Linked DNA regions of Homo sapiens. The protein of the gene in region 1 purifies or fractionates together with the protein of each later gene. This does not show direct contact. Each region holds a gene or a part of one and is shown on either strand. Other genes may lie near its edges.

Region 1 (5,273 bases):
AATTTCTTTCCATAATGCATCACCGTAGAATAACCAACCCACAACCATTCTTTTTTTTTTTTTGAGACGGAGTCTTGCTGTCACCCAGGCTGGAGTGCAGTGATCTTGGCTCACGGAAACTTCTGCCTCTTGGGTTCAAGCAATTCTCCTGCCTCAGCCTCCTGAGTAGCTGGGACTACAGGCGCATGCCACGATGCCCAGCTAATTTTTGTATTTTTAGTAGAGATGGGGTTTCACCATGCTGGCCAGGCTGGTCTCAAACTCCTGACCTTGTGATCCACCTGCCTCGGCCTCCCAAAGTCCTAGGATTACAGGCTTGAAACACCACGTGCAGTCCATTCTTCTTACATATAATCAGATATTCACACTAAGATATTTATTTATTTATTTGAGACAGAGTCTCACTCTGTCGCCCAGGCTGGAGTGCAGTGGTGGGATCTTGGCTCACTGCAGTCTCCGCCTCCCGGGTTTAAGTGATTCTCCTGCATCAACCTCCCGAGTAGAATAGCTGTGATTACAGGCATGTACCACCAGGCCCAGCTAATTTTTGTGTTTTTAGTAGAGACAGGTTTTGCCATGTTGGCTAGGCTGGTCTCAAACTCCTGACCTCAAGTGATTTGCCTGCCTTGGCCTCCCAAAGTGCTGAGATTATAGGTGTGAGCCACTGCATCTGGTCACATGTGTGAATATCTTATTATTGTTGTTAAAGGACAATGTCCTGGCTTTCCACTCACTTTTGAGTGTGTTCTGAAGCTTATTTAAATATTCAAAGTGGCCTGCTAATCCCAGCACTTTAGGAGGCCAAGGTGGGGAGATGACTTGAGGCCAGTTTGAGACCAGCCTGGCCAACATGGTAAAACCCCGTGTGTACTAAAAATACAAAAATTAGCTGGGAGTGGTGGCGTGTCCCTGTAGTCCCAGGGACCTGTGAGGCTGAGGTGAGGGGATCACTTGAACCCAGGAAGTGGAGGTTGCAGTGAGCTGAGATCGGGCCACTGTACTCCAGCCTGGGTGACCAAGCGAGACTCCGTCTCAATTAAAAAAAAAAAAAAAGTGTGGGCTGGGCATGGTGGCTCACGGCTGTAATCCCAGAACTTTGGGGGGCTGAGGCGGGTGAATCACGAGGTCAGGAGTTCGAGACCAGCCTGACTAACATGGTGAAACCCCACCTCTACTAAAAATACAAAAATTAGCCAGCCATGGTGGCACACGCCTGTAATCCCAGCTATTGGGGAGGCTGAGGCAGGAGAATGGCTTGAACCTGGGAGGCGGAGGTTGCAATGAGCCGAGATTGCACCATTGCACTCCAGCCTGGGTGACAGAGCAAGATTCTATCTCAAAAAAAAAAAAAAAAAAAGGTATTTACACATGTAATGGATGTTCATGAGGAAATGTAGACAGATGGGCTCTGTGTTGCCTGTCTGAGGTTTTATGCATAACTTATGCATAGGAATTCATGCAAATGTCAAGACTGACAATAACTGTGCTTCCCTTGTCCTCCTCCTTAACCCCTCACCCTCAGCAAGCTCCCCTCACACTAATGGCTGGCGCTGACTCATTGCAACAAAGTGTCCCAATAGTAACAGAGTGGGTTTGAGTAAAATGGAACTGTTGAATTAAAAACTGAAATACTAAGAAAAATTTATTTTAATCTTTTTTTGACCCCAAATTATGCTGCTTGGCAATTCAGATGTAGTAGACACATGCTATATAGGGGTCTTTATTTATTTATTTATTTATTTCGGACAGGGTCTTATTCTGTCATCCAGGCTGGAGTGCAGTTGTGTGATCATAGCTTACTGCATCCTCAAACTCCTCGGCTCGGGGGATTCCCCTGCTTCAGCCTCCTGAGTAGCTAGAACCACAGGGGTGCGCCACCTCACTGGGTTAATTTTTAAAATTGTTGTAGAGATGGGGCCAGGCGTGGTGGCTCACGCCTGTAATTCCAGCACTTTGGGAGGCCAAAGTGGGTGGATCACCTGAGGTCAGTAGGTCGAGACCAGCCTGTCCAACATGGTGAAACCCCGTCTCTACAAAAATACAAAAAAATTAGCTGGGCATGGTGGTGGGCACCTGTAACCCCAGCTACTTGGGAGGCTGAGGTAGGAGAATCGCTTGAACCTGGGAGGCAGAGGTTGCAGTGAGCCGGGATCGTGCCGTTGCACTCCAGCCTGGGCGACGAGCGAAGCTGTGTCTCCACAAAAAAAAAAAAAAAAACATTTTGTAGAGATGGGGTCTTGCTATATTGCCCAAGCTGGTCTCAAACTCCGGGGCTCAAGTGATCCTCCCTTGATGTTTCAGATATCTGGGTGTTTTTTAGTTCTATTTTTATTTTTATTTTGTATTTTGTATCATTTATTTATTTATTTATTTGAGACGGATTTTTGCTCTCATTGCCCAGGCTGGAGTGCAATGGTGCAATCTCGGCTAACCATAACCTCTGCCTCCCAGGTTCAGGTGATTCTCCTGCCTCAGCCTCCTGAGTAGCTGGGATTATTACAGGCATGCGCCACCACGCCCAGCTAATTTTCAATTTTTTTTTTTTTTTTTGAGACGGAGTCTCACTCTGTTGCCCAGGCTGGAGTGCAGTGGCGTGATCTCAGCTCACTGCAAGCTCCGCCTCCCAGGTTCAGGCCATTCTCCTGCCTCAGCCTCCCGAGTAGATGGGACTACAGGTGCCCACCACCACACCTGGCTAATTTTTTGTATTTTTAGTAGAGACGGGGTTTCACTGTGTTAGCCAAGATGGTCTCAATCTCCTGACCTCGTGATCTGCCCACCTCGGCCTCCCAAAGTGCTGGGATTACAGGTGTGAGCCACCGCGCCCGGCTCTAATTTTGTATTTTTAATAGAAACGGGGTTTCTCCATGTTGGTCAAGCTGGTCTCGAACTCCCGACCTAAGGTGATGCGCCCGCCTCTGGCTCCCAGAGTGCTGGGATAACAGGCGTGAGCCACCGCACAGAGCCCTAATTTTTATTTTTTGTAGTGACAGGGTCTCACTATGTTGGCCAAGCTGGTCTCGAACTCCTGGACTCAAGTAATCCTCCTGCCTGGCCTCCCAAAAGTGCTGGGATTACAGGCATAAGCCACTGTGCCCAGCTGAGGATGAATATTTTGGAAGTACATTCATTCTTTTTTTGGAGATGGAGTCTCGTTCTGTTACCCAGGCTGGAGTGCAGTGGTGAGATCTCGGCTCACTGCAACCTCCACCTCCCAGGTTCAAGCAATTCTCCTGCCTCAGCCTCCTGAGTACCTGGGACTACAGGCATGTGCCACTATGCCCGGCTAATTTTTTTTGTATTTTTAGTAGAGATAGGGTTTTACCATGTTAGCCAGGCTGGTCTTGAACTCCTGAACTCCAGTGATCTGCCCACCTTGGCCTCCCAAAATGCTGAGATTACAGGTGTGAGCCGCGACACCCGGCCTGAGGTACATTTATTATTAAAGTTTTAAGTTACACTATACTTAGGTCTATTTCCTGTGGCCCAGTGTGGTCCCTTCCCAGTTCTAGCACAAATTTTAATCAAGTACCCCTGTTGTCAGGAGACATTTAATATTTTCTAGAGGTTTGCAGGCTTTTTCTATAAAGGCCAGATGGTAAAATATTTTTGGCTTTGTAAGCCTAATGATCTCTGTCATGACAACTTAACTCTGCCACTGGTACTGGCGAGCAGCCACAGACAACATATAAATGAACAGAGTGAGGCTGCATTCCAGTAAGACTTCATTTATGCACACTGAAATCTAAATTTCATATAATTTTCATGTATCACAAAATATCATCTTGTATTGATTTTTTCCAACCAGTTAAAAACGTAAAAAACATTTTTAGTTCACAGGTTATATAAACACAGGCAGTGGGCCAATTTGGCCCACGGCCAAGGTTTACTGAGTACTGAAGGATTCAAAACACAGGTTGAGGCCAGGCGTGGTGGCTCACGCCTGTAATCCCAGCACTTTGGAAGGCCAAGGTGGGTGGATCACCTGAGGTCAGGAGTTCGATACCTGCCAGGAGTTCGAGACCAGCCTGACCACCATGGTGAAACCCCATCTTGGCCGGGTGCAGTGGCTCACGCCTGTAATCCCAGCACTTTGGGAGGCTGAGGTGGGCGGATCACCTGAGATCGGGAGTTCAAGACCAGCCTGACCAACATGGAGAAACCCCGTCTCTACTAAAAATACAAAAATTAGCTGGGCATGGTGGTGCATGCCGGTAATCCCAGCTACTTGGGAGGCTGAAGCAGGTGAATCCCTTGAACCTGGGAGGAGGAGGTTGCAGTGAGCCGAGATCATGCCATTCCACTCCAGCCTGGGCAACAAGAGCGAAACTCTGTCTCAAAAAAAAAAAAAACCCATCTCTACTAAAATACAAAAAAATTAGCCAGGTATGGTGGCACATGCCTGTAATCCCAGCTACTCAAGAGGCTGAGATAGGAGAATCACTTGAACCCAGGAGGCGGAGATTGCAGTGAGGCGAGATCAAGCCATTGCCATTGCACTCCAGCCTGGTTCACAAGAGTGAAAACTCGGGCTCGAAACAAAAACAAAAACAAAAACAAAAACAAAAACAAAAACAAACAAACAAAAAAACTACACAGGTTGAGCATCCCAAATCAAAAAATCGCAAATCTGAAGTGTTCCAAAACCCAAAACTTTTAGAATCAACATGATGCTCAAAGGAAATGCTCATCAGAGCATTGTGGATTTCAGATTTTTCAGATTAGCGTTGTTCAACCAGTAAGGATAATGCAAATAATCCAAAATCCAAAAAAAATTTCCAAAATCCAAAACACTCTGGTCCCAAACATTTCAGATAAGGTATCCTTACCCTGCATGAGGGCAACATTAATGGTGAATAAATAACTTCTTCAGGAACACAACAGACTGGTACAGTTGCCTTTTTATATTAATTAGGCTTAATAGTGCTTGGATCCGATACACTCAATACTACTACAAACCTTGGATCCGATATACTCAATACTACTACCTTCACTACATTAGCAAAGTCTTAGTCTAAAGATCCTGTGAAGTGGGAGGGTTTTCAAAGTCACTAGAAGTGGTTGTGTTGCACCACGTAAACTCACCAAACATAATATAGTACTGCGATTTTCCATTCAGGTTCTTCTGGTCAATGTCTGCAGGAAAGACCTTAATGTAGCCCCCTCCACAGTCCATCTTCTGCTCATGTTTTACTGTGTACTGAATAACCAGAGTTTTCCCTTTATTGCTGAACGGTTTGAAGCGTGCAGAGATGGCATAGAATCGGCCATTC
Region 2 (5,273 bases), on another chromosome or scaffold:
GGAGCACAGCGGTTGAGGGACAGCGGTAAGGCCGGGGCACATCCTGGGAGAGAACCTATCATGAAGGGGGTTCTTTTTAAAAATAAACCTTATTTTAGAATGCTTTTAGACTTACAGAAAAGTTGCAAAGAGAGCTTCCCCTACTGTTAACATCTCACTTTAGTACATTATACTAGATACAACTAACAAACCAGTACTGACACATCATCAACTACAGTCCATACTTCACTCAAATTTGCTCATTTTACCCAAGGCCTTCTCTCCATCCTAGAATCCCTTCCAAGACACCACCTTACATTTAGCTGTCATGTCTCCTAAGGCTCCTCTGGAATGTACGTTTCTCAGATTTTCCTTGCTTTTAATGATCTGGACAGTTTCCAGAAGTACTAGTCAGGTATTTTGTAGGATGTCCCTCAACTGGAATCTGACGTTTCTCTCCTGATTAGATTGGGGTTCTGTTTTGGGGAGAAAAGCCACAGAGGTAGAGTCGTTTCCACCACACCGTAGCAAGCGGGTAAAATCAACACGATTTATCGATGTTGACGCTGCTCCTGACCACGTGACTGAGGTAGTATCTGCCAGGTTTCCTCACAGTCAGGTTACTTTCACCCCTCCCTGTACTGTATTCTTGGTAAGGAAGTCACTGCATGTAGCCCATTCTTAAGAGACAGAGAGTTTCGCTACTCAAAATATTTATAATTCTTCTAGAAACTGATTTGTCTATCTTCCTCCATTTATTTATTCAATTTTTTTTCTTTTTTAGACAGAGTCTCGCTCTCTCACCCAGGCTGGAGTGCAGTGGCGCGATCACGGCTCACTGAAGCTTTGAGCTTTCCGGGCCCCCGTCTCAGCCTCCTGAGTAGCTGGGACTATAGGTGCGTCTGTAGATTTAGACTGACAGAATTTTACATACTCAGGAACCACCAGCACGCCTGGCTCATGTTTGTATTTTTTATAGAGACGGGGTTTCACCACGTTGCCCAGGCTGGTCTCAAACACCCAGGCTCAAGCGATCTGCCCAACTCGGCCTCCCGAACTGCTAGGATTACAGGTGTGAGCCACTGCATCCAACCTGAATCTTTTTTTTTCTCAAGATCCGTCTGGACTCATGGATAAAGGACAATTTTTAGGACTTTAGAGTTTAGTATGAATCAAATGAGAAGTCCCCCAGCGGATTCTGAACCGAGGAGTGCCACGGTCTCAGTAAAATGGAAAAACCTGTGGGCAGCCAGGGCAGAAGCTGGAGGGCGACCAGAGCAGTCAGAGGCTGCAGCCACAACACAGGTGGAGCGCGTGTGGGCTGGGGCACAACGGGGGTGGGGGGCAGATTGTGAATCTATTTCAAGGTTGCCTGATGCTGGAGTGGGGAGAGGGAGGGAAAGGAGGAGAGAACAGTACCAGAGAAGATGCCAAAGACTGCTCAGCGTAGAGAACAAGGGGGCCAGGAACCGAGAGGGAGACAGGAGGAGAAGCAGCCTCAGGGAGCAGATCGGGAGGTCAGTTTTGGACAGGGTAAGATGGGAACAGCTACGGGCTATCCAAGTAAAGATTGTGAGTGGGCAGCAGATATGTGGGAGACTCCAGCCGGCAGATAGAAATTTGAGAGTTGTCTAAATATGAAAGACGGTATTTAAAACCACAGAACTGAATGAGATCACCAAGGAAGAGAGCAGGCAGAAGAAAAAAAAAATCCAAGAGCAGAACCCCAAGATTTGAAGGGTCCAAACGGGAGGCCCTGACAGGGGAGATGTCGGCCACTGAGGGAGGAAAGGGAACCACAGCATAGTGGTGTGATAAGAAACAGTGAGTAAATAAAGATTTTTCTACAGCTGAAGCCTAACATTAGAACTTGGAGTTCTATATAATATAAATACTCACTAATCCAGCTGGGCGCGGTGGCTCACGCCTGTAATCCCAGCACTTCGGGAGGCCGAGGCAGGCGGATCACGAGGTCAAGAGACCGAGACCATCCTGGCCAACATGGTGAAACCCTGTCTCTACTAAAAATACAAAAAGTAGCTGGGTGCGGTGGTGTGCGCCTGTAGTCCCAGCTACTTGGGAGGCAGAGGCAGGAGAATCGCGTGAACAAGGGAGACGGAGGTTGCACTGAGCTGAGATCGCACCACTGCACTCCAGCCTAGGTGACAGAGCAAGACTCTGTCTCAAAAACAAAAAAAAAAGTACTTGCTGATGCGCCACGCTGCTTCCCCCTCCATCCCCCCACCAGAAGGCTCTGGCACTGTTCCATCCCCTAAGACACACAGACCATGGCCAACACGTCAGACTGCTTTGGCTGTTCTCTCCCCATGCTGTCCCAGGTGCTCAGTCCCACCACAGCCCCCACCACCACCCACTCATCCCCAACTGGATTCCCAAACATGCAATTACCTTCCACATCCTACTCAGCAGTTCTCACGGGACACAATACAGCTGGGACGGACTTGTGGACCACATTCCTAACTGAAATCTTTGAAAAACCTGAATGTACTCTGCAAACTTGGCTAACAGAATGCTACTGTGAGTAGAATAAATTATTAAATGAAAAAATACACTTTTTGGAAGACATTGTTAACCGTGCAGTAATGTAACCAAGAACCACGAATTCAGGTTTCACTATAAAAACCACCCTGATCAAAACAATGGCTGTGGCTCTCATGCAAAACAAACAGTAAAGCTGAAGCGGGGAGAGACTCCAACACCATTTCATCTAAAAAGGACCTTATCGCCTAGACTCCTTTGCTTATGGAAATTAAACTCCAAAGACCATCTGAGCCAAGGGCTATACTTTGATATTTAGAAGGTGATCACACTACTTAAACTCACTGCAATTTGGGATTTCTAAAATGCATTTTCCGAAGCCAAAACAAAGAGTGTTTACTTAGTCTAGCCTTGAAGGAGAAGGGCTCCCAGTCTAAAGCTTAAATATCTTTAGCATAGATCTCTGAAAATCTATAAATACGGCAGAAAAATAACTTTTGCAGTAAAAATCAGATATTAATATCTTCATATTTCTTCATTAGGGAGACCTTCATGTAAAATGCTTCCATCAATTACTGTGACTGCACATTCTTCACAAAACAGAACACAGCCCCTGTGCTGAAAACCTAACTGCATATATTCAAGTGTTTAGATGACCTCAAGCTCAAGTCTTCGAAGGGTTTCACACGCCACAGAGACAGGACATTAGGTGAGACACAGCATCACACAATGCACCAATTCTGTTAAACGCCGCATATTTATTACTGAGCGGTCACAATTCTTACAAGCACAAGTAGTCATTCTAGCCTTTATGGAACAGGACATTATTAAACTTTTCATTTCACATGTTATGATAAAAACACAAAATTATTAAGTTGAGAACTCTGTGTTCTCCCTCACTGTGCTCTTCTCCACTCTCATTTTCTATCAACATAGTGAAAGCGTCAGTAGAATTTAACTCATGATTAAAATTTGGAATTTCGAGTTCAGTTCAGTGTCACATTTTTAAAGTATTTTTAAGAGATCTCTAAATTGCAAGCATCTTTCTTCCCCCGAGACAGGGTCTTGCTCTATCTCCCAGGCTGGAGAGCAGTGGCACCATCATAGCTCACTGCAGCACCAACCTTCCAGGCTCAAGTGATCCTCCCGCCTCCGCCTCCGGGGTACCTGGGCGTACCACCATGCCCAGCTAATTTTTTGTATTTTTGTAGAGATGGGGTTTCACCATGTTGCCCAGGCTGGTCTCGAACTCCTGAGCTCAACTGATCGACCTGCCTGGACCTCCCAAAATGTTGGGATTACAGTTGTGAGCCACTGGGCCTGGCCGGCAAACACATTTTCAAAGCAGGATCATGAAGTTGTCAAGAGATTATGAATTGTAAACGAGTTTTTTTGTTTGTTTGTTTGTTTTGGAGACAGTCTTGTTCTGTCACCTAGACTGGAGCACAGCGGTGCAATCGTGGCTCACTGCAACCTCTGCCTTCTGGGTTCAAGCGATTCTCATGCCTCAGCCTCCTGAGTAGCTAGGAATACAGGCATGCACCACCATGACCAGCTAACTTTTGTATTTTAGTAGAGACGGCCAGGCTAATCTCGAATTCCTGGCTGCAAGTCATCCACCCACCTCAGCCTCCCAAAGTGCTGGGATTACAGGCATGAGCCACCGCACCCAGCGTAAATGGCTTTTTAAAAATACTGTATATTAAAAAGAATGTTGAATGATTTCTAAAATTTCAGACATTCCAAATAAAATTTACAACAGGAAAAAAAAAACTCTCTATTTTTCTAGTTCAATTATCATAGCCATGTCGGTACTTTTAAAAGCTTTCATCCTTACACTGAAATACTAATGAGTAGATCCTGTTTATTTTCTGGGTGTACACTAATTCTTTTCAACCCATCTTCATATGATTTTCAGCATGAACGGAGGAAGCTGTGACCCTAGAAATTGAGCAGCAGCCTTAGGCTTGGTATATGTCATTTAATCACTTCTGCTAACTCCATTTATATGTTGTTATCTTTGACTGGGGCTGCAATAATCTGGTAACTCTAGCAAGACATACTTTAAATATTGCCTTCACATGATCAACCACCGGTTCCAATTTAACCCTGAGAATGGTCTTTACTGACAATGACAGTGTGGAACTACAATCTGGCTTTTTCAGAAAACTTCACCATGTACATGATTTAATCAATCCAAAATAGATTCCTGAAGTGTTCCTGCCCTTAAGAAAGATAAACAGATGTCCTATTTTTCAAACAGCCTCTATATAAAACCTAGTTATCTACATGAACCTATAAAACATGTCTGTTGGCATTACGAAGATGACGGGTTCTAGTTGTTCTGTGCTCCTGGGAACGACAAGACAGGACAGGTAGGCAGCGGCTGTGTGTCTATTTCTGGCAGGGTGAGGCATTCCTGTGCTATTCTCTTCTTTCCCCTCTCTATATATTCCTTATCCTCCAACCACTTTCTCCTCATCCACATTCCAGGACAAACTTTGCCCAAGGAGAAGCTCAATGGACTGTTGACCTCTTGTGAATGGAGATCATCTCATCTAATGTATTTTTCTCCACAAACAGAAGTAATTTAAATGACATCTTGGCAGAGTAGCCAATAATCAACAATGGCCACTTCTTCCACTCCCAAGTTGGTAAGTAAGACTTTATTTTATACGTTGAATTGGGCTCCCTGTATAATTAGATTCGGTCAACCCTTCACTAAATGACAGACCAGGAAAGTGAATGTTCCATGTACAGCAAGAAAACGGAAATCTTCAGGGAGAAAAGTCCAT

Evidence for each region. Proteins that work in one complex are often made in the same cells at the same time.
Region 2: the proteins of CALR3 (region 1) and FAT1 purify together in Homo sapiens (affinity purification with mass spectrometry, with the first as the bait; one large-scale study listed by BioGRID). This does not show direct contact.

The regions. Positions count from the first base shown.
Region 1 is NC_000019.10:16,485,282-16,490,554, forward strand, and holds part of CALR3 (calreticulin-3 precursor), read right to left. Parts: coding exon 5,086-5,273; intron 1-5,085. UniProt on the Homo sapiens protein: During spermatogenesis, may act as a lectin-independent chaperone for specific client proteins such as ADAM3. Required for sperm fertility. CALR3 capacity for calcium-binding may be absent or much lower than that of CALR.
Region 2 is NC_000004.12:186,712,914-186,718,186, forward strand, and holds part of FAT1 (protocadherin Fat 1 isoform 1 precursor), read right to left. Parts: intron 1-5,273.